Homo sapiens: one gene and its partners. The protein of the gene in region 4 purifies or fractionates together with the protein of the main gene of each other region. This does not show direct contact. Each region holds a gene or a part of one and is shown on either strand. Other genes may lie near its edges.

Region 1 (6,331 bases), on a different chromosome or scaffold from region 4:
TCTCTATAAACAAACAAACAAGCAAACAAATAGAACAGAAATAGTGCCACAACTTACTTTGCTGCGTATTTGGGAGAACGCATATTAGTTAATCAAAATCATTTGCTGAAGGTTGTCTACATGCTGTATAAACAAGCTAGATAGACTCTACCTACATCAAGTATGCAAAGCTAGTGAAAGAATTACAGAAGAGTAACCATTTGCTTCCAGGCTGGCGGCTTCTTCCCTGGAGAGCAAGTTGGAGTTTATCCTAACCTGACACCTTTATGATCTTCTGATCATTTTATTCCTGGAATAGTTGTACTCCACATTTTGAAAGGCTAAAATGAAAATTATAGAACCCTCAACAAAGTTTGGTTGATGGAATTTCGATTTGACTGTTTCCAGCCACTTCTGAGTTTAACAAAGGAGGCTCATGTATATTCTTCATGGAATTTGGCTCCAAGAAAACTCAACTCAATTTCCTGGAATGGAGCGGATTTGTGACTTCAAAGAGAAACATCTGCATTTCCTTTTCTAAAAATACTCCATTTGCATTAGACTGCACCCTGTGACATTTCCACCAGATGGCAATACAGTCTTTGGATGACAGAGAGTCTTGCTGGTTTTCAAAATCTAGAAATATTTGTGTAGGCACTATAAAAAAGCATTTTTTAAATGAAAAGCTCCCATAACTGCCCCGCATTCTAAAGCAACCATCTTTATTTGCACATACTCACTTTGAGTTTTTGTCAATATTCATACAGTCGTTAAGTACATTTATAATGTGCATGGCATTTTAGTCTGCTATCAAAATTCAGCACAACATATATCATTCACATATTTCTACATGACCTTCATGATTATTGCAGCAGTTACATACTATTACACATAGTAAACCTTTCCCCTATTGTTACATAGTATGTAGTATGCACTTTTTCACCTGTTATAGATAATGCTGCAGGTAATGGCACACAATTGGCACACAGTTTTGGAACATTAGGAAGAACTTTAGGGATAGGAATACAGGGTGAAAGACATAGATGTCTTTTGCTCTTTAACTTTTCCAGAAAGATGTGCAGATTTACGTGGCTATCAGCACTGTGAGAGGATCTGGGTTCTGACCAGTTGCACTAGGCCCACGTTTTTGTTTTACTTTAATTTTTTAAATCCTAAAAGTCAGGTGCAGGGGCTTTAGCCTGTAATACTAGCACTTTGGGAGACTGAGGTGGGAGCTCAGGAATTCAAGACCAGCCTGGGCAACAGAGTTAGACCCAGTCTCAAAAAAAAAAAAAAAAAAAAAGAAAGCGAGAAAGAAAACGAAAGGGAGGGAGGGAGGGAAGGAAGGAAGGAAAAAAGAAGAAAAGAAGAGAAGAGAAATTAGGGCCAGTGGCATTGGGTCATGCCTGTAATCCCAGCACTTTGGGAGGCCAAGACGGGCAGATCACCTGAGGTCAGGAGTTTGAGACCAGCCTGGCCAACATGGTGAAACCCCGTCTCTACTAAAAATACAAAAATTAGCCGGGCGTGGTGATGGCGCCTGTAATCCCAGCTACTCGAGAAGCTGAATTGCTTGAACCTGGGAGGCGGAGTTTGCAGTGAGCAGAGATGGCACTCCAGCCTGGGTCACAAGAGTGAAACTACATCTCAAAAAAAAAAAAAAAAAAAATTAGCCGGGTGTGGTGGTGCATGCCTGTAGTCCCAGCTGCTTGGGAGGTTGAGGCAGGAGGATCACTTGAGCTGGGAGGTTGAGACTACAGTGAGCTGTGATTGCATGACTGTACTTCAGCCTTGGTGATGGAGCAAGACCTTGTCTCCAAAAATTATATATATATCCTAAGACATCTCCCATGATGATACATTAATTTCATTCAACAAGTATTTGTTCAATCTGCTGTTCCAAGTTTAATATTGAGTACTGGGAAGGCAATAATGAGGAAATACAGTCAGGCGGGGAGTCAGATTCTTCATCCTACAATTATGTAAACAAGTGTCAAGCCCCTGCCATGACAAGCGCCATGTGGGAGAGTAACAGGGTGCTCCACAGCCCTGAGTGGGAGCGTTGCTGAGTCAGGAGGCCCAGCCATCCACGTTTCATCTTCCTTCCAGGCCTTGCGTTTGCTGCTCCGTTTGGAGCACTGCCCAAGCGTTGTCTTAGCTCCTGCTGCGGGGGAAACTGCATGGATAACCTGGGGTGGGGGCAGTGTCTACAGAGGAAAGGACTTGAAAATGCACTTCTCCCGAACTAGGTGATGTTTTCTGTGTGTGTGGCCCTTCTTCACAGTGGCCTCCTAGAAAAACAAGACCCTGACTCAAAGAATACCTCTCATTACAGTAAGACTGTTTGGAATGCTTTACTTTTTTAAAAATTTAATTTAATTGTTTAATGTGGTAAAAAAAATATATAACATAAAACTAACCAGCTTAACCATCTTAAGGGCACAGTTCAGTGGCATTAAGTACATTCTCTTTGTTGTGCAACCATCACCACCACCCATCTCCAGAACTCTTTTAAAATCTTCCCAAACTCTGTACCCATCAAACAACTCCCATTTCCTTCTCTCTTCACCTCTGGCAACCATCATCCTACTTTTTCTTTATATGAGTTTGACGGCTCTAGGAACCTCTTATAACTGAAGTTATCCAGGTCTGTCTGTTTGTGACTAGCTAGTTTCACTTAGCATAATGTTCTCGAGGTCCATTCATGTAACACATGTCAGAATTTCTTTTCTTTCTAAGGCTGAAGAATATTCCATTGTATGGACCTACCACATTGCATGTATCTGTTTATCCACTGAGGGACCCTTGGGTTGCTATGGAAAATAATGCAACTACGAACATGGACATCTGTTCTAGTCCTTGCTTTCAATTATTTTGTGTAGATGCACAGCAGTGGAATTGCTGGATCAGATGGTAATGCTATGTTTGCTTCACTATTTGTCATGTGCCTTTATGCATATTGTGATAAAATTTGATTTTTACAATAGTCCTGTGAGATAAGTAAGCATTGGTCTGTGGTTAAGAGAAGTGATTTCTTCAAAGTGAAATGATGAACGGAAGAGTATCCTGACCTTAAACTTGGCTTTTTTTTATTGCCCGTTCAGCTTGAAGAGTGGTTCCAATCACAAGTGTTACCTTCCAAGGACAATGTCATCCTGGTAATAACCAGCTTGCTCCCCTGCCCTGAGTCTTCTGCCAAGTCTGTCCAGGTGTGGGTCTGGGGCAGGGGACAGCTCATCCATTTCCCACTGCACAGAACGGAGGCTGTGTCCAGGGCCCCAGCAACAAAGGTTTCTCCTCTGGGTTTCTGTTTCCCTCTTTCAGTTCAGTCTGTCATCTGAACCATGAGGATCTGGTGGCTTCTGCTTGCCATTGAAATCTGCACAGGGAACATAAACTCACAGGACACCTGCAGGCAAGGGCACCCTGGAATCCCTGGGAACCCCGGTCACAATGGTCTGCCTGGAAGAGATGGACGAGACGGAGCGAAGGGTGACAAAGGCGATGCAGGTACTCACCTGACGGCTTCGGCTGCCTTTGAGCTTCTCTCTTCATTACTTTCATCTCATTCACTCATCATCTGTGTGGTTTTCCACCTACCCACTCACAACCCATCCATCCATCCACCCAGCAACATTCACTGGAGCCTGACCCCATTCATCCATCCACCCATCTGCCCAGCAACACTCACGGGGTCTGCTCCATGCCAGACTCTGTGCCAGGTGCTGGTGGAGAGCACAGGGCCAGATCGCCATGACCCCTGCCCTCCTGGGTTCTCTCATCTCTGACACCGCAGGACATTTTCAGTAGTATACAATGTCATGGATCCTCCCACCTCAGGTGACAGGTATGTTGGATTTTTGGCAACACGAGGCCAATAGAGAGATCTGATCATGAATTATTTGGCAGCAAGCACCCAGCTGCAGTGCAGGTGAGAGCTAATACCATATCATGTCATGAAGCAGGAGATGCGGAGTGACAGATGACACATACAGCTGCTGCTTATGAATCTATGACCTAGGCAGGGTCTGGGGATCTGGGGACAGAATCCATCCTCTGGGAGGGAGATTTGCCAAAGCCTGGAAGTCTGAGTGCTTTCCATAACAACAACCAATAGACTTGGTTTCTGAATGGGGTACCATTCTTGAGGCCTGGTCTTGACCATAGGGTCACATATCTAAGACTTATGCAGAATGATTCACTGGGTTAAGAGCACAGTTCAGTGGCATTAGAAAGAAAATATCAAAACTTCTATGGACCTTTTTACAAATAAGTTTGTGTTTCTAACATGTCTCACTTTATGGCATTTGGTGGCCTGATAGTTTTTTGAATGGGCTGGATGAAGCCAAGGGTCACCAGGAAGCAACTTTATTTCTTTCTAACCGGCACATCTGCTCTGTGAGGTGTCTTCTCCTGGCTCCTCACATCTCCAGCTCATTGAGACTGTTCCAGTCCCCCGGTAGCAAATAGCCCAGTCCAAATGAATACTAAAACCTTACCCTTAATGAAATCAGGTCTTCTGCCCTCACACTGTGACCACAGTGGTGTGTGTGTGTGTGTGTGTGTGTGTGTGTATGTCTGTGTCTGTGTGTATTTTATTTCTGAATGTTTAGGATTTTCATTTTTTAAATTTTTGTTATAAAATATTACACATAAAAGGAGATAAATAGGTGATACAAAATACAGAGAACTAAGACAAACACTTCTATATTCAATACCAAATTTCTCTACCTCTTCCGTGTTGAATTTCTCTCCTCTGCTCACCAATGTCCATTCTTTCAAGTTTTACATACTTCTTAGAAGCAAATGTTATATCTATTTTTTCTATGTAATTCATAAGTATTATTTGTAATATATATTCTTTCTTAGAAGGACATTCAATCACATTGCTCACACTAAAAATTTACTTCATTTTTATCTTACCATCTTAAAGTGTATTTTTGTGTATGTTTTATACCAAACATATTTTTCATATACTACCTGTGCATAATGTAGAAACATATAAATGTCTACTGATTGGGGTCTGTGTTCATGCTTTGTGAGTTGTGGTGCGTGATCATGAAAGCTCAGAGGCCACTGCTCTAGAGAATGGGAGAAACGAGAGCCAAGCAGGGGAACAAAAAGAGGGAAGGAGAGGAAGACACAGGGGAGCAGCCAGTAGAGGGGAGGGAAGGGGAGCGCAGGGAGGGGCAAATGTAGGGATAAGCCCCCTCCATTCAGAGGTCCCACGCTGACCAAGGCCCCACTCAGGAGCGCTGGTGTCCCAGGAGAACAGACATCGTGACAGAAATAAGTCTGCCTGTGTCAGTCCTGTCTCAGGACCTGCAAGCCGGCCCAGCCTGCGCCTGTCGCCCCACAGCCACGTCAGTGGGTCTGAAGTATGGGAGTCTCTGCTGCTTTGTGAGAAGCCAGAGTCTGGGGTGAGCTGTGGCCCAATGAGCACTCTACTGCCATAGCCAGAGCCACCTTCAACCCGCTGACGGATAGCACGCCGACCTGGAGCTCAGGGGGGCCTGTTCTGAGCACAAGGACTTGAGTGTAGTCAGCAGAGCCCCACTCACCTGATGTTCTCTGCCAGCTCGATTAGTAGCATTTCCCCCAGTGTAAGGCACTAGAGGGATCCCTCCAGAACTCTCTCTTCTATCTTGGGATAGTGTCACGTAACCATAGTCATCTGTGTTTTCATAGGAGCCTAGTAAATCTTCCATTCCACTCTCCTCAAGAGTAATGGAAGAGAAACAGAGTGAGGAAACCTCCTCGCACCTCCAACATTCAGACCACGTCCCAAGTCCTTGTCGCAGGAGAGGAACACAATCAATTGTGACAGTCAGTCCCCATTGCACACACTCCCTCTTCGTCCTGTCTTGCTGTGCGCTCTAGGCACGTCCTAGAGATGGGCGCTTGGGAAGTCACTCAGTTCATTTCTTAGGTCACTTATCCCACGCAGCTCAGCACCCCAGATGCCCGCTCATGCCTGCCTCTCTCCACCTGCGCTCGTGTGGAGGACAGAGTGCCCGTCAGGGCGGGGGTCACCCCCAGACTCTCCAACACATGGCTGATGGAGACCAATGGCCAGAAAAATCAGAAATGGAATTTCAACTCATGCCTGTTTTCTGCTTTTCCACCTAGGAGAACCAGGATGTCCTGGCAGCCCGGGGAAGGATGGGACGAGTGGAGAGAAGGGAGAACGAGGTTAGTAGTTCCTATTTATGGTGCTCTAATTCTGAGCTGTCGACTATTTAACAATATTACCATGGACAAGTCCTCCATGCTGATTATAATCTTATAATAAAGGCAACACAGTTCTTACTCTCCAGATGGGGGGATTCTGCAGGGATTGGCAGGCTTTGCA
Region 2 (5,787 bases), on a different chromosome or scaffold from region 4:
GTAATTGTGTCAATCACTCTTTTCTTTTGCCAAATCAACTGTATTTGCAGCCCCAAGTATAGACTCTATATCACATTACAACTATTTGTTTTTTTCACTGTTCCAAAGATATTATTACATTTTAGCAACTGGAAATGGCTCCATCTTTGTACCCAGATATAGATGAAAAATCCTAATAACCATAGGTAGTTTGATGATTCAAATTTTACCATTCTAAGATTATAATTTATTGATTGATTTACTTTTAAACTGAAAAGCTTAGAATGAATGCTAAATATACCACAATATTTTCATTCTTTCTTAAAATTTTAATCTCAGTAGGCTGGGCGCGCTGGCTTATGCCTATAATCCCAGCATTTCGGAAGGCTGAGGCAGGGAAGGGAAGGGATCACCCGAGGTCAGGAGATCAACACCAGCCAACATGGTGAAACCTCATCTCTACTAAAAATATAAAAATTAGGCAGCGTGGTGGCACACGCCTATAATCCCAGCTACTTGCGAGGCTGAGGCAAGAGAATTGCTTGAACCTGGGAGGCGGAGGTTGCAGTGAGCCGAGACTGCGCCACTGCACTCCAGCCTGGGAAACAAGAGCAAGACTCTGTCTAAACAAAAAACAAACTAATCTCAGTAATGTAGATTGTGAGGAAGAAAATAAGATATAAACAGTTGTCAATTTAAAGGGTTCTATCTATGCTTTTACTTGCCACACCTGCCATAAACTGTGCACAATTAGTAGACAGGTGTGGAGAGCAGTAGAGGGAAGGGGATGAATCTGTCCCACAGGGTCTGCCACTATTGTATTTTTTTATGACACTGGAATTTTAACAACATTAATAACCTCATTTTTCAGCACTTTCTAGAATTCCAATCAAGGTAAATATCATAAGAAATTAAATGAGAGTAAAAGTCAAGAAAACATTTTGAAGGAATATAATGAAGGTTTAGGGTACTCAACACAATGCAAGTAATGAAAGTTCACTGGTATCCTGGAAAGAAAATGTCAACTGATGATTCCGCAATTGTAGTTTCATCTTTATCCACTCATCATTATCTAATAAATCAGCTGCATGGTGCTTAGCACATATTAAGCACTCTGTTTGTTGAATACTCAGATGCTTTGAAAAATGATGGGTTTTGCTTTCTATATCCTCTTTCATTTGAAATGTCAGAAAAAAAGGCTCCCTTAAAGCAGAAAGTGCCTATTGGTAATCAGAGGGTATATACAGTTCATTAGTACTTACCTGCTCTCGAATCATATTTTTGTAGTGAGTCACAATATTGTCATGCTGTTCTAATGTTTTTTTCACCTCTTCTTCTTTTTTATCTTCTTCACTGGACTTATAAATAGCCTTAGTTATAACACCTATAAAAGGAAGCTTATTTAAAATTTGTTTTAAATGTTTTAAATACTATTTTACTACTAAGACTTAGTAAAAACATATAACCTAACTCCATGATAGGTAAGAAATAATCTTTTCAATCCTACTGAAAGCCAAATGTCCTTCAATGGGCTACAGATCAAGAGCTAGGAAGAAAATATACCTTTAGAGTTACCATATAACCTGTATGCATCCAGAATATACATGTACAATATAAATATAATTACTTTCCATCAAATATCAATATAAATCTTCAGTCTTACCTTCAAGTTCTTTTACCAGCTTCGTAAACTCATGATCAAATATCATGTATTCTGGACTGGGAAAGTTTGGCTGGGGTTTCTGAGATGCTCTGGAATACAACTCATGTTTGCTAATAAATCCTAGTTTCTCTATGAAATTCTCTTTGCCAATCCTCTTCTCAATCAGTTGTTTTAGCTTCTCTCTACGGAGATAAGCATATTGAGATGCTTTAAAAAAAATAAAATCAAAACAAAACATAAAAGCTTGGTCTACATAATGCTTTGGCAAAAAAAAAAAAAAAGCATCATTATCTCTTGATGCCATTAGAAAACCATCTTCCCCTTACTTACTTCATGTAGCTCTCAAGTGAGTTATCATTGAAATAAATCGAAATGCCCAACAAAAGGGCACATAAGCCTTGGACCAACTGCTCTTCTTCTCCAAGATTTTCTGCAATTTGTCCTGTAAGCTGAAATCTTTGTTAAGGAGGCTAAGGATTGAAAATATCTAGTACATTTTGCAATTTGAATTTGACATACATTAATACTTCACATAAGAGTTCCCATAAGAAATTCCATATATAGGCTAGGTGTGGTGGCTCATGCCTGTAATCTCAGCACTTTGGGAGGCCAAGGTGGGTGGATCACCTGAGGTCAGGAGTTTGAGACCAGCCTGGCCAACATGTCTCTACTAAAAATACAAAATTAGCCGGGTTGTGGTTGCGCACACCTGTAATCCTAGCTACTCAGGAGGCTGAGTGAGGCAGGAGAATTGCTTGAACCTGGGAGGCGGAAGTTGCAGTGAGCCGAGATCGCGCCACTACACTCCAGCCTGGGCGACAGAGCAAGACTTCATTTCAAAAAAAAAAAAAAGAAATTTCATATATATATTCCAACCCGGCATAAAACAAACCACACACACACAACTTAAACAAGCATCATAACAACTTTAACAGTTTAAAAAGTTGCAACACAGATAAGATAGTGGAGAATTCAAATATTTTGGGCATAGAACTACTTCTAATTGAGGAGAAAAACTAAAAAAGATATAAATACTTACATGTACGTTACTAAAACATAAAGGATACAAATGGAACATTGGCTGAATTGTGAAGAAAATGCGTTACTGCAATGGGACAATTGCTTAGCCAGGTACAAAGCAACATTAATAATCCAACTCTTGTTTGTATTTTGCTTCCCTGCAACAGATAAATTGGTAGAAATCTTTCCATTCATTTTATATTTTTCAAACTTAAAGTTGCCCTAAGATCCCTTCCATTTGCATGAAAAGAACTTTAACATCTTACAAGAGATGAGCCAGAAATCCAGTTTTAAAAAACTAAACAAGAGAATAAATTATTGTATGCACCACAGGCTGCACTTCCTAAAATGAACAGAGTGCAGAAATTAGAACTGATTCATGTTCAGAGGCATATACTGGGTTATTTAAAATATGATTAGTTTAAAAACCTTGTCTGCTAAGGAAAAAAATCAGTGTGGAGGCTTTAAAATAATCTATTAATCCCAAGACCCTTTACAATAAATTTGCCAAGCAAATTTATGATATTTCAGTCACAAGTTTAAAAACAAGTTCCTGATAAAAGGAAAATTCTACTTCCTTCAAAAAAAACCAAAAAACAAAAAAATCAAGAAAAATGCAAAAAATAATCCCCTGAATCATTTAGTCAAATTCCATGAGAGAATATATTCTCTAACAATAAATAAACCATACTACAAATTCAGTCATCACACACCAGATGAGAAATCACAAACATAATCAAGAGGAAGATTTAAATTAGCCAAGTGCCCCCAAACCATTAACAGCTGCCAAGTATAGTTAATAATGAAAATTAGCATATCCAGCAAAATTAGTTTTCAAAATTTTAATACAACACATTTACATCTCCTAGGTAGAATATTCTCTTAGTTCACAATATTGACAGTGCCCATATTTATATTCCTATAACCTGTATCTTTTTTTAAAAAAACAAAACAAAACTTGTTTGAAATAAAATAATGAAAATCAGAATAGTAATGCATCACTTTGGGGAAAGTCTCATAAAATGTCCGAAATATAATTCAAAGATCTAGACAAGGAATGAATTTAAAGTAATCATCACTGTGTTCCGAAAAATTTCTACCACCCAGACTATTCTAATTTCACAAACCTTGATGCCAATATCTTGACTCTTCTATAATCTATTTTTAGGTATATTTAATATTGAATTAAGTTCAAACAGGACCTCTTCAAATGATTTGCCAGGTAAGCACTGATACAAATTTAGTTTTTACATGATGCATTATTTTTACTGTTTCCTTGCCTCTACGTCATTACCATGCCCACAATATATCTTCAAGTCATCCATGTAAATTGGAAAGTTAAAAACCAGTCACTGCCAACTGACTATGTGCCACAGAAAACTTACAACTACTCGAGTTACAAATGCAAATGTTTTGTTCATCTACCTGGTTATATATAAGTTCATTATTACTTAGCATAACCATTTGCAGGTACCAAATATACCCACAATGTATATATAAGAACATCCTATCAAATCACTGGCTGATGTATGAGTAAAAAAAAACAGAGTAAGATTTAAATCAGAATCTTCTAAAAGCATGGCTTTTGGGGTCTAATTGAAGGATAAGAAGAGCAAAGTCAAATATAACCAGTTAAAAGACAGAATGAAACACTCCATTTATTACAGAGACAAAAAAAGATAAAGTACTCAGGAGTGAACCTAATCAAAATGGTATAAAATCTAAACAAGGAAAATTTTAAAACACTCCTAAAGAGCACAAAAGTGGACATAAACCAATAGAAAGCCACCATGTTCTTAGATAGGAGACTCAACATCACAAAGGTGTTAATTCTAAGTTAATTTATAAAATTAATGTGCCTGTAATCCCAGCACTTTGGGAGGCTGAGGTGCGTTGGATCACCTGAGGTCCAGAGTTCGAGACCAGCCTGACGAACATGGTGAAACACTGTCTCTACTAAAAATACAAAAATTAGCCAGGCGAGGTGGCGCGCGCCTGTAGTCCCAGCTACTCAGGAGGCTGAGGCAGGCGAATCACTTGAATCTGGGAGGTAGAGGTTGCAGTGAGCCGAGATCACAACACTGCGCTCCAGTCTGGGTGACAGAGTGAGACTCCATTTCAAAAAAAATAATAATTGTAAAATAAATTAAAAATAAATAAATGAATAAAATTAATGTGATTCAAATAAAAATTACTAAAAGGCTTTTTTTTTTTTTTTTGCTTCTGGAACAAAACAACATGATTCTGAAGATCATATGAAAAAAGTGAGATTAACTAGGGACACTGTAAAAAAAAAGAAAAAAGAGAGAATAATGGATCACGAACAAGCAGGAATCAAGAGACAGAATACAAAAATCCAGAAAAATGGGCCCATATACAAATGAGAATTTAATATATGAAAAAGTAGCATACAACTATCAGTGAGTTACAAATAGACTTAAAAGATTTTGGGACAACTGGAGAGCTATCTAGAAAAAGATCAGTGGATCTGTATCTCATACAGTTCGCTGAGAAAAACAGAACAAAGAATTAAATGAAAAAAAAAGAAACCAGAAAGTATAAGATAAACATTGAAGTATAATTCCTTATAAAGTCTTTTTTGGGGGGATTGGAGACCAGGTCTCGCTCTGTCTATCAGGCTGGAGTGCAGCAATCATAGCTCACTGCAGCCTTGAACTCCAAAGCTCAAGCGATGCCCCCACCTCAGCTTCCAAAGTGTTAACATATAGGTGTGAGCTACCATGCCTGGCCTAGTAAATTCCTTAAAATCTGAACATGGAAAGGCCTTTTCTAAGTATGACTTAAAATGCAGAAGCCATAAAAGATAAGTCTGAGAAAAAAAAAAATCCATAACAAAACACCAAGGTCAAAAGACAAATGACATACCAGAAAAAAAAAAAAAAATCTGTAACTCATATTAAAAACAAGGGTTAAGTATGTTAATATAAAATGGGCAGAGGATATAAATAAAAGGAAAAGTACACACCTCTTTTCAGAGCCCCTAGAGTGTGTGAACCATTGAGGAGATTTGAGAAAACAAATGGAGGCTAAAACTGTAATTTGAGAGCATTCTCGGGGGTAATTATAAACCACAGATTTTACACGATAAAAGAGAACTACAAACA
Region 3 (5,787 bases), on a different chromosome or scaffold from region 4:
TTTGAGACCAGCCTGGCCAACATGGTGAAACCCTGTCTCTACTAAAAATACAAAAATTAGCCAGGCATGGTGGTGTACACCTGTAATCCCAGCTGCTCAGGCAGCTAAGGCAGTAGAATTGCTTGAACCCAAGGGATGGAGTTTGCAGTGAGCGGAGATCGCACCACTGTACTCCAGCCTGGGGACAGAGCAAGACTGCATCTCAAAAAAAAAAAAAAAAAAAAAACAATGGCCGGGCGCAGTGGCTTACACCCGTAATCCTAGCACTTTGGGAGGCCGAGGCGGGCAGATCACGAGGTCAGGAGTTCAAGACCAGCCCGGGCAACACAGTGAAAACTGGTCCCTAGTAAAATACAAAAAATTAGGCAAGCATGGCAGCATGCGCCTATAGTCCCAGCTACTTGGGAGGCTGAGGCAAGAGTGAGGCAAGAGAATTGCTTGAACCCAGGAGGCGGAGGTTGCAGTGAGCCGAGATTGTGCCACTGCACTCCAGCCTGGTCGACAGAGTGAGACTCCGTCTCCAAAAAAAAAAAACAAGATTGCATAAGATGTGAATACTCAGTCATTTTAATCAGTGGGAATAATTATAATTATTATAATTGTTTTTTGATCTTTACGAATCTTGTCAAAATGTTAAAAAAAAGGCTCTTCTTTCTGTCAGTTATTAATGTTTAGAGAAATGAAAAAATAGTAAAAATATTTAGTATACTATAATTTAAAACTTACGAAATATTGAGAATTATTTTCTTTTTTAAAAACTTAGCAAGAATAGTTTAAACTGTGCTTGCCACCTTCCTCTCATATAATTTATAACTAAGTGAGCATCTTTTCTGTACCTTGACAGATTGTCATGTTTCTAAATTTGGATCCGCTTTACATTTGTATATTCATTACATTCTTATTGAGCATCCACCATAGCTGTTCCAGTACTGTGCTAAGAAAAGATCATTTCAATGGATTTGCAGCTAACTTTATGGCTTCAACTCGAGTCTTGCCTTGAAATGTCACCTTTAAACATGCCTAGTCAGATTCAAGGGCTTGCGTGGATTTCTTAGATATAAGGCATTCACATGGACTCTTGTAAAAGAGTAATGGAAACAACTATAGAAATTTGCACTTGTTTACTGAAGACAGGAGAAGTAAAAGCTGCTTTCATAAGCCCAAGAATTACGGAGATTTTTATTAAACTATAACTATTTTCCCAATCACCTCACTAATACAGAGAGCTTCTAAATCATTGCCAGGGGTCATTTTCATACCTTTTGAACATGTTTTGAAAATAGATTACAGGGCCAGGCGCAGTGGCTCACGCCTGTAATCCCAGCACTTTGGGAGGCCGAGGCGGGCAGATCACGAGGTCAGGAGATCGAGACCATCCTGGCTAACACGGTGAAACCCCATCTCTACTAAAAATACAAAAAATTAGCCGGGCATGGTGGCGGTTGCCTGTAGTTCCAGCTACTCAGGAGGCTGAGGCAGGAGAATGGCGTGAACCTGGGAGGCGGAGCTTGCAGTGAGCTGAGATCATACCACTGCACTCCAGCCTGGGCAACAGAGCGAGACTCCATCTCAAAAAAAAAAAAAAAAAGAAAAGAAAATAGATTACATGACTATCTAATTATCTAGTGAATGTAAAAATAAATAATGAAGGCCGGGCACGGTGGCTGAAGCTTGTAATCCCAAATGAGGCAGGTGGATCACCTGAGGTCAGGAGTTCAAGACCAGCCTGGCCAACATGGCAAAACCCTGTCTCTACTAAAAATAGAAAAATTAGCCAGGCATGGTGGCACATGCCTGTAGTCCCAGCTACTTGGGAGGCTGAGGCAGGAGAATCGCTTGAACCCAAGAGGCAGAGGTCACAGTAGGCCAAAATCGTGCCACTGCACTCCAGCCTGGGTGACAGAGCAAGACTCCATCTCATAAATAAATAAATACTTTTGTTTTAAAAGCATATTATTGACCTACCTGTAAGGAATAATTGGTTGAGGGAAGAATTGTGAAAAAAGATGTAGAAAAGATGTAGGGTTGTAAGGGGCTAGAAAAACCCGTGCAGCTGGTAGAGAGGGAATGGAAAGCAGATCCTGTGAAAGGATAGCACAGGAAGAGAGGCAAAATCCATAATCCTTACTTTATTTTTGATCAACACAGTACTGCCAACCCTCAGATTAAGGCAAGGTAAGCAGATTTATATCATCTTTACTCATATCTTCTGATAGATTTACTAAAGATGATTCCATATCTACTAAATTAGAAAGCCAGAGCTACCGCCTTAAACTGCTTGGAGTGCAAATATTCACAAAGAGGCAAAACTGTGACCCAAATTCCTGATTTTTGCTTTTGCTTCCCTTCTTCTCAGGTGCTCTCTACTAGGTAAGATTGGGAGATATTGGACTACTACTAAAATTTAGTGCTCACTTCATTCTACCTCTCAACCTCTACTTTGTCCTTAATGTTTTGCTCCTTTAATGTAGGCAGAGGTTCAAGAAACCAGGAAGATGAGTGATCATAATTTTCACGTTTTATCGTAGTGACTTATTTCATGCCTCTTTCTCCCAGTAGACTACATATTCCATGAGGGCAAAGGCCATGTTATTCATATCTAGCTAGTGCCCAGCATAAGTAACTCACTATCTGTTGAGTGAATGAGTAAACCTAATTTATTATTTTGGAATACATTTCTGTTTTAAATTTATTATTTTTTTTTAGATATGCAACCATTGTCTCCAATTTCTGTCCATGAACGCTACAGTTCTCCTACCGCAGGGAGTGCTAAGAGAAGACTCTTTGGAGAGGACCCCCCAAAGGAAATGCTTATGGACAAGATCATAACAGAAGGAACAAAATTGAAAATCGCTCCTTCTTCAAGCATTACTGCTGAAAATGTATCAATTTTACCTGGTCAAACTCTTCTAACAATGGCCACAGCCCCAGTAACAGGAACAACAGGACATAAAGTTACAATTCCATTACATGGTAACGTTATAGTGCATTTGTTTTGTACTTTTTCTGAGATAAAAATTTAAGAAATGTCTTAGTGGATTAGATCACATGGTTTTTCTAACTCATTATTTTTTCTTGAACCTATACTTTTTTTTTTTAAATAGATTTGAATTTTTTAGAGCAGTTGTAGATTCACAGCAAAATTCAGAGGAAGGTACAGACATTTCTCATAGTCCCCCTTCCCCAACCAGAGGCATATAAAGCCTCCCTCATTATCAGTATTCCACACCAGAATGCTACATTTGTTACAGTTGATGAACCTACATTACTGACACATTACCCAATGCCCATAGTTTACATTAGGGTTCACTCTTGGTGAATAGTTTATTGATTTTGAGAACGTATAATGACATGTATCTGTCACTATAGCTCCATACAGAGTAGTTTCACTGCCCTATAAATCCTCTGTGCCCCACCTTTTTGTTTTGAACCTATAGTGGTTTTTTTTTTATTTTTAAATTTTATAAATTTACTACCCTCTCTGTTTGTTTAGACTTATTTTACTTTTTCTTTTCTTCTTTTTTTATTTTTTGAGACAGGATCTCACTCTGTCACCCACATTGGAGTACAGCAGCATGATCTCATCTCACTGCAACCTCTGCTCCCAGGCTCAAGTGATCGTCCCACCTCAGCCTCCTGAGTAGCTGGGACCACAGGCAAGTGCCACCACTCCCAGCTAATTTTTTCTATTTGTGGTACAGATGAGGTTTTACCATGTTGCCCAGGTCTCAAACTACTTTTAAAATGTTCTTATCTGAGCTTTCCAATATGTATGTATTGAGCAAAAATTCTGTTTTTTGACTAACAGCTCAAGTGCTCAAAATGTTAAAAAAAAAAATGCTTTTTTTTCCAATAAATTTAAACTATAAATGTATCCCAGGCAAATACAAAATAGAGAACAAAATTTGCTTTTTTTTCCATAAATTTAAAGTATAAAAACAAAACCGAATATTCTTGTTTCTAGAAAATAAGGATTTATGCGGGGCATGGTAGCTTTCACCTGTAATCCCAGCACTTTGGGAGACCAAGGCAAGAGGATCACTTTAGCCCAGGAGTTTGAGACCCAGACTGGGCAACATAGCAATATCCTATCTCTACAAAAAATTAAATTAGCTGGGCATGGTGATGTATGCCTATGGTCCCAGCTACTTAGGAGGCTGAGGCAGGAGAATCACTTGAGCCCAGGAATTTGAGGCTACAGTGAGCCATGATCACGCTACTGTACTCCAGCCAGGACAACAGAGCAAGACATTGTCAAAAAAAAAAAGAAAAAGAAAAAAAAAAGGGGGCCCGGGGGGCGCCAGGCACAGTGGCTCACACCTATAATCCCAGCACTTTGGGAGGCTGAGGCAGGTGGATCACTTGAGGTCAGGAGTTTGAGACCAGCCTGGCCAACGTGGTGAAACCCCGTCTCTACTAAAAATAGAGAAAAAACATTAGCCGGGTGTGGTGGCGCATGCCTGTAGTCCCAACTATTCAGGAGGCTGAGGCAGGAGAATTGCTTGAACCTGGGAGGCAGAGGTCTCAGTGAGCCAAGATGAGGCCACTGCACTCCCACCTGGGTGACAGAGTGAGACTGTCTCAAAAAAAAAAAAAAAAAGTCCAGCTGCAGTGGCTCATGCCTGTAATCCTAGCATTTTGGGAGGCCAAGGCAGGCAGATGGCTTGAGCTGACGAGTTCGAGACTAACCTGGGCAACATGGCAAAACTCCCATCTCTAAAAAAAAAATACAAGCCGGGCACAGTAGCTCACTCCTGTAATCCCAGCACTTTGGGAGGCCGAGGAGGGCAGATCATGAGGTCAGGAGATCGAGACCATCCTGGCTAACATGGTGAAACCCTGTGTCTACTAAAAATATTTTAAAAATTAGCCGGGTGTGGTAGCATGTGCCTGTAGTTCCAGCTACTCAGGAGGCTAAGGCAGGAGAATTGAACCCGGGAGGCAGAGGTTGCAGTGAGCCGAGATCACGCCACTGCACTCCAGCCTGGGCGACAGAGCAAGACTCCATCTCAAAAAAAAAAAAAAAAAATTTACCAGGCATAGTGGCTTGCACCTGTAGTCTCAGCTATTTGCGGGGGTTGAAATGGGAGGATCACTTGAGCCCAGGAGGTCGAGGCCACAGTGAGCTGAGATGGCGCCACTGCACTCCAGCCTGAGTGACCAAGTGAGACCCTGTCTCAAAAAAAAAAAAAAAAAGAATTCAGTCATAACCTAGAATTACTATTTTGTAGCCTTCTTATACACACAGATATATGTATATATAATTGTCAAAATATATATAGTTGACAACTTTCCTAGAACATATGCAGATTATTTCTAATAATGCTTATACATTCAGGTGTCGCAAATGATGCTGGAGAGATCACACTGATACCTCTTTCCATGAATACAAATCAGGAGTCCAAAGTCAAGAGTCCTGTATCACTTACTGCTCATTCATTAATTGGTGCTTCTCCAAAACAGACCAATCTGACTAAAGCACAAGAGGTACATTCAACTGGAATAAACAGGCCAAAGAGAACTGGGTCCTTAGCACTATTTTACAGAAAGGTATGTGTTTTTATAGCACTTTAGAAGAATTTGTTTAATCAATGGAAGAAAGATTGAGTAACAGAGACAGACTTTGGTCTTTTTTTTTTCTAATATACATAACACAAAATTTACCATTTTAACCATTTTTAAGTGTACAGTTCAATGGTATTAAATACATTCACATTGTTGTGCAGCTTTATTACTACCGTCTATCTCCAGAACTTTTTCGTCTTCCCATTCTGAAATTCTGTATCC
Region 4 (5,787 bases):
TTTTTTAATTTAATTTTTATGAACAGCTCCAGGCTTGAAATAAATGTCTGCTCTTTTCAATGTCTGTGGCTTGGCTGAATTCAAACCAGCTAATATGGAAAAGGTTGATTTGAGGTTGAGCCACAGTGAATAATCGTGCGTTTCTGGGCATCTAATCTTTACTTACCTGTGTCTCTTCATCCTGCTCACCTTTCTTTTACCTTGATTTAGAGGGAAAAAAAATTGTCTGTGTGTAGATACATATGTATGTATACATGTATTTATTTTGCTTTATTCCATTTTGTAATTTCAAAGCTGCCTCGAATGGTCTTTGCAAGGAAGTGATGTAGGGTGTGAATTTCATAGGAAAATTGGGGTTTCAACAGGCCTTTTTTCTATGTTGCCCCGGCTGGAGTGCAGTGGCTATTCACAGGTGCAATTATGGCATGCTGCAGCCTCAAACTGCTGGGCTCAAGTAATTCTCCTGCCTTAGCCTCCTGAGTATAGTAGCTGGGACTATAGGCACATGCTACTGGCTCAGCAACAACAGGCCTTCTTATTTGCAACCAACTCGAGTTTTTTGTACCCGAGACATACCCCTCATAGCTGCAGGAAATCTTTGCTCTATGTATAGTTTCTCTAAAGCGTGAAGCAGATTGATGAGTTAAATAGAAACTCACCAGTGTTTCTGATGGAGTAGAGGCGAGCGTTTCTTCTCCCTGGCCAATATTTGATTTTTGATTGGCCTTGTACTTTATCTGGCTCATTTAGGAATGCTTCTGAATATGCAGAGCAAAATTACTGAGTTGCTCTTTATCCTTTCGTTGACTGTCAGACCTACATTTTTCCTCAGATTGCATTATTTGATGCTTACATTGCATTTTTTTTTTCTTTTGAGATGGAGTTTTGCTCTTTTTTCCCAGGCTGGAGTGCAATGGCGTGATCTTGGCTCACTGCAAACTCCGCCTCCCGTGTTCAAGCGATTCTCCTGCCTCAGCCTCCCAAGTGGCTGGGATTACAGGTGTGCACCACCATGCCCAGCTAATTTTGTATTTTTAGTAGAAATGGGGTTTCCCGGTGTTGGTCAGGCTGGTCTTAAACTCCTGACCTCATGTGATCCACCCGCCTCTGTCTCCCAAAGTGCTGGGATTACAGGCGTGAGCCACGACTCTTGGCCATGTGCAGTTTGAATGGTAGAAAAGTAATTTCTCCAAAGAGCAGAATTTTGGATCTCTTGAAAACGTGTCTTTTTTTTTTTTTTCCTGTAGTGCCCTCCCCACCTCTTAGGTGGCTATCTTCTTGTCATTCAGGTCTCAGAGCTTAAATTATAGCACCTCCCAAGCCACCACTCCATCAGAGGAGCTACCATGCCCTTCTGTACATCACCTTGTTAAATTTTTCACATAGTGAGCATTTAGTATATTTTTATTGTTTACACATTTGATGTTTTTCCTGTCTTCCTCCCCTAGAAAGTGGTCTCCTCGACAACACGCAGTGCTAGCTGCCGCAGCCTTAGTGCTTGTGCCCAAAGCACAGTCACAGCTGCTCAGTAAAGAATTTTTGAATAATTGTGTAAGTGATTTTTTCAGGTTATGAAGGCATTCTGCATAGACTGAAAGCTCTCTGATTGAAGGTTAAAATATTAGTTTGAGTGAATAAATAGGTGACTTGCTCCGTTGGATACTTCTGCCTGTTCTGGAATTTCATATAAATGCAGTCATAGTGCATGTACTCTTTAGCACTTTTTTCACTCAGCATAATCATTTTGAGACTCATCCAAGTTATAGTACATATGAATAGGTTTTGCTTTTCGTTTTTATTGTGGAGTAACATTTAAGTAAATGGGTAAGAATATACCCCAGTTTATCATTTTACCTCATGAGTCATGCCAGATTTCTTATGCTCACTATTTACATAGTTTTTCTTTTCCCATCCTTATGCCTTTATCCTGTGTCTTTATATTTAAGATATATCTCGTTTAGATAGTGCATAATTGGGTCTTGCTTTATCCTGTCTGGCAGTCTGCTCCTCCTAATTAGGTTGCTTCCTTTTTTTTTTTTTTTTTTTTTTTGAGAGACGTAGTCTCGCTCTGTTGCCGAGGCTGAGTGCAATGGCATGATCTTGGCTCACTGCAACCTACACAATTCTCCTGCCTCAGCCTCCCGAGTAGCTGAGACTACAGGTATGTGCCACCACGCCCGGCTAATTTTTTGTATTTTTTTCAGTAGAGATGGGGTTTCACCATGTTAGCTAGGATGGTCTTGATCTCCTGACCTCGTGGTCTGCCTGCCTCGGCTTCCCACAGTGCTGGAATTACAGGCATGAGCCACCGCGCCCGGCCTCTCCTTTTATATTTAACGTAATTGTTGAGGTAGTTGGGTTTAAGTCTACCTTCGTGCTCCTTGTTTTCCATTTGTACCGTCTGGCTTTTGTTCTTTTCTTGTTCCTTTACTTACTTTCTTTCTTTTTTTTTTTTTTAGATGGAGTTTTGTTCTAGTCACCTAGGCTGGAGTGCAATGGTGCAATCTCGGCTCACTGCAACCTCCGCCTCCCGGGTTCAAGCGATTCTTGTGTCTCAGCTTCCCGAGAAGCTGGGATTACAGGCGCCCATCACCACGCCCAGCTACTTTTTCATTTTCAGTAGAGACAGGGTTTCACCATGTTGGCCAGGCTGGTCTTGAACTCCTGACCTCAGGAGATTTGCCTGCCTCGGCCTCCCAAAGTGCTGGAATTACAGGCTGAGTCACCACGCCTGGTCTCCTTTACTTTCTTTGGGGTTAATCTCATCGCGTTTTAGGTTTCCATGTTTATGTTCTCTATTTATCTCGTTTAGATAGTGCATAATTGGGTCTCATTTGTTTCTTAGCAAAGCTGCCCTAATGGTTTGTGGTATGTGAGTGTAGATGCATGGACAGCTCAGGGTGTTTACTAGGGCCCTTCTACTTGGTGGGATGCAGCCTGGGCCTAGATCTTTAGGTCTTGATGGGGAAAGTTACTTCTGACCACTTGTTTGTTCAGCGTTCTTTTCTTTTTCCTCCTGATCTGTTTCTTGTGGGAAGCTCAAGTGTTCAAAAAGCCCATTTTCCAGTTAAATAGGCTGTTGCTTTGTTACTTATCTTCATTAGTCTTAGGATTATGATATATATCTGGAGGAATGTATATTATTGTTTAATTGTTACTGTTACCTGAATGCCCTGGATAAGTACAAGCCAACTCCAGCTAATAAGCTTAATGTTTTCTCAAAGTTGAGTTGATTGTAAGCATCTCCCGTGGAAATCTTGTTAATGGTAGTTTACATGCTCCCTCACCGTAATTCTGAGCTTGCATGCTGGTGGCTCTAAAGCCCTGGAGATAAGTGGCTTTTGTGGAGAGCCAGGCTGCAGAAAAAGGAGGATGAAGTCTTTGGGATGTGGGGAGCAGGAATATGGATTATTCAGAGACATCCTTCTCTGCTCTCCACTGCCCTTCCAGCCTACACCTAGGGGACAGAATCTCAGAGAATTGTTTCCAACGTATTATTCATGTCTTGCATTTGCTCAGCCAGATGTTGCCTTTCTAGGGCAGTGATTTTGGGACTCCATTTTCTTATTCAAAAGAGGATTTTCCTTTTAAGCTTCATTCTACTTCCACAGAGCTATTTTTAGAAGAAGATAAACTAAGCAATCTTTTCTGTGTTTGCTCTTTTTTAGTCGAGCAAAAGATGTGATAATACCAGCAAAGCCACCTGTCAGCTTTTTCTCCTTGAGGTCTCCAGTCCTTGACCTCTTCCAGGGGCAGCTGGATTATGCAGAGTACGTTCGACGGGATTCAGAGGTGGTACTGCTCTTCTTCTATGCCCCTTGGTGTGGACAGTCCATCGCTGCCAGGGCAGAAATTGAGCAAGCAGCAAGTCGGCTTTCAGATCAGGTAATGCTCACATTCAGCTTAAGAATCAAATGACTGTCAGTCCTATATGTAGGGCAGGATGTCCCCACAGAGACACCTTGCCCAACGGGCAGACTTTGCCAAGGTGAACTCCAGGAGTCGTTTCTAAGTTACAGAGCTTTCTATAAAGCAACAGAAAGGATTTCCAATTGTGGCGATTGTACTCCAAGGCAAGTGTGGGAGCAGATTCTGAATCTCATAACACAAGCCAATGCTTATCCTGGGGTGCCATACTGTTTGGTTTCAGCATTGAAAAAGGTAGAGGGACTGAAAATCCTAGTTCTTGCATATCCATTTGATACTTGCTAGTTAGGTATTTTAGGTAAGAAAATGTATGTATGATATGACTGCATTGTAACAAGGCCGACCTTTTTAATATATGGACCAGAACTATATTCAGCAGATAAGGAATGCCACCTTTGGGCTAGGTAAGAAAGATATATAGGCAAATAAGTCACCTGTTATGGCAGTGGTTTTCAGCCCAGTGGACCCCAGTTGTGCTTTAGAAAATAAGTATTTTATGATGTCCCTTTTTCTTCCTAAAAAGGAATTCATAGATGATAAAGTTTTCCTATACATGTAATTTCAAAATAATCTAATGCACGGATTGTAACATAGAGGTGAGGGGGGAAGAAAGTAATTTGTAACTAAATGATATATATTTTAGTATGTAAGTGCACAGTCAGAACAGGTCCATATACCTTTATGTAGAATCACTGAATGGGATAGTTACAAACGTAGACTGATAAAGGTGATATGTTGGTGACTTACCTGCCACATGGACATTGCTCTTAGTAATTGATTATCCTAAATGGTGAACAGTCTTGGTAAAATCCTGAACTATGCAAAGCCCTTTCTGCTCTCAGTTTACATAGAAGTTGCATTCCTGAAAAATTCAGTGAACACAAAAAGCATGCTTTAGATTCACATGTAAAATGGAGCTAGGTACTGGGCTTTGATAATAACAGGTTTTCCCCAACATCAGTGTTTGGCAGGCGTTTTGAACTCCTCTGGAATGCTATGGACGACTCTTCCGTGTGCAAAGCAGGTTTGAGTGTAGCAGGACATCTACCAACACCCCTGCCCTACGTATGCACTGTAGCTTCCCCCAGTCATTGTAGCAAGCCAAAAGCATCCCACAGATTTCTAAGACTCTCCTGCTCAGAACCACTGATGTGAAGTAACGTGTGTAGGCAGCTGAGTTCCAGAAGTTCATTTGGAACTGTCATTTGGTTTTTCTTAGAAACTGTGGAGCCTTCCAAATTTAGAGAACAAAGTTCACGTTGCCCATGTTGGGCACAAGAGGGATATCTATTGTGTTTTATTAATAAGTGTGAATTAGCTACCTTACTGTCAGCCTAAGCAGTATGTCCTTCTGAGTGATGGCATTAGTATAATAATAATGATATTCTGGTGTGCCAGGCCCCATGCCAATTCTCAACCACTTTGCAAGGCGATGCTGTCAGCCCTGTTTTTCTGAAGCAGGACTGCAGGCATAAGGGGTGAAGCAGTTTGTTTACCATCACGTAGTGGTGGGGGTTGTAGTGCAATCCAGGGACTGCTGCTTTTTTTAAAAAAAAAATTTCAGCTCCTTCCAAATTGAGAGCTTACTATTCCATGTACTCAGTAGGGAAAAAAGTGGGTTTATTTTTGGAAACACACAGAAATCTTTTGAACTGTATTGCATGGTAAGATTGGTAAACACGGTCCAAGTCCTGCCTGGACATCATAGATAAGAGTATGTCTTTCTTTTTTGTTTTAGTGATAAATTATGACCTTTGAAAACTCAAAACAGTTTTTTTCATAGTTTCTGTTTCAGTGAGAGAGGAATCATTCTATTTTTAAATTTCATCTTTTAAATCTTGGTAACTTTTCAGTTGTTAT

Evidence for each region.
Region 1: the proteins of TXNDC11 (region 4) and C1QTNF9B purify together in Homo sapiens (co-immunoprecipitation; one large-scale study listed by IntAct). This does not show direct contact.
Region 2: the proteins of TXNDC11 (region 4) and USO1 purify together in Homo sapiens (affinity purification with mass spectrometry; 3 studies listed by BioGRID and IntAct, with this or other methods). This does not show direct contact.
Region 3: the proteins of TXNDC11 (region 4) and RBL1 purify together in Homo sapiens (affinity purification with mass spectrometry; 3 studies listed by BioGRID and IntAct, with this or other methods). This does not show direct contact.

What each region holds. Positions count from the first base shown.
Region 1 is NC_000013.11:23,893,979-23,900,309, reverse strand, and holds the start of C1QTNF9B (complement C1q and tumor necrosis factor-related protein 9B precursor), read left to right. Parts: upstream 1-2,807; 5' UTR 2,808-2,892; intron 2,893-3,083; 5' UTR 3,084-3,188; intron 3,189-3,303; 5' UTR 3,304-3,323; coding exon 3,324-3,489; intron 3,490-5,667; coding exon of another isoform or gene 5,668-5,799; intron 5,800-6,108; coding exon 6,109-6,171; intron 6,172-6,331. UniProt on the Homo sapiens protein: Probable adipokine. Activates AMPK, AKT, and p44/42 MAPK signaling pathways.
Region 2 is NC_000004.12:75,796,655-75,802,441, reverse strand, and holds part of USO1 (general vesicular transport factor p115), read right to left. Parts: intron 2,821-5,787; coding exon 2,710-2,820; intron 2,092-2,709; coding exon 1,973-2,091; intron 1,825-1,972; coding exon 1,643-1,824; intron 1,364-1,642; coding exon 1,242-1,363; intron 1-1,241. UniProt on the Homo sapiens protein: General vesicular transport factor required for intercisternal transport in the Golgi stack; it is required for transcytotic fusion and/or subsequent binding of the vesicles to the target membrane.
Region 3 is NC_000020.11:37,032,428-37,038,214, reverse strand, and holds part of RBL1 (retinoblastoma-like protein 1), read left to right. Parts: intron 1-2,706; coding exon 2,707-2,973; intron 2,974-5,338; coding exon 5,339-5,550; intron 5,551-5,787. UniProt on the Homo sapiens protein: Key regulator of entry into cell division. Directly involved in heterochromatin formation by maintaining overall chromatin structure and, in particular, that of constitutive heterochromatin by stabilizing histone methylation.
Region 4 is NC_000016.10:11,734,115-11,739,901, reverse strand, and holds part of TXNDC11 (thioredoxin domain-containing protein 11), read left to right. Parts: intron 1-3,668; coding exon 3,669-3,885; intron 3,886-5,787. UniProt on the Homo sapiens protein: May act as a redox regulator involved in DUOX proteins folding. The interaction with DUOX1 and DUOX2 suggest that it belongs to a multiprotein complex constituting the thyroid H(2)O(2) generating system.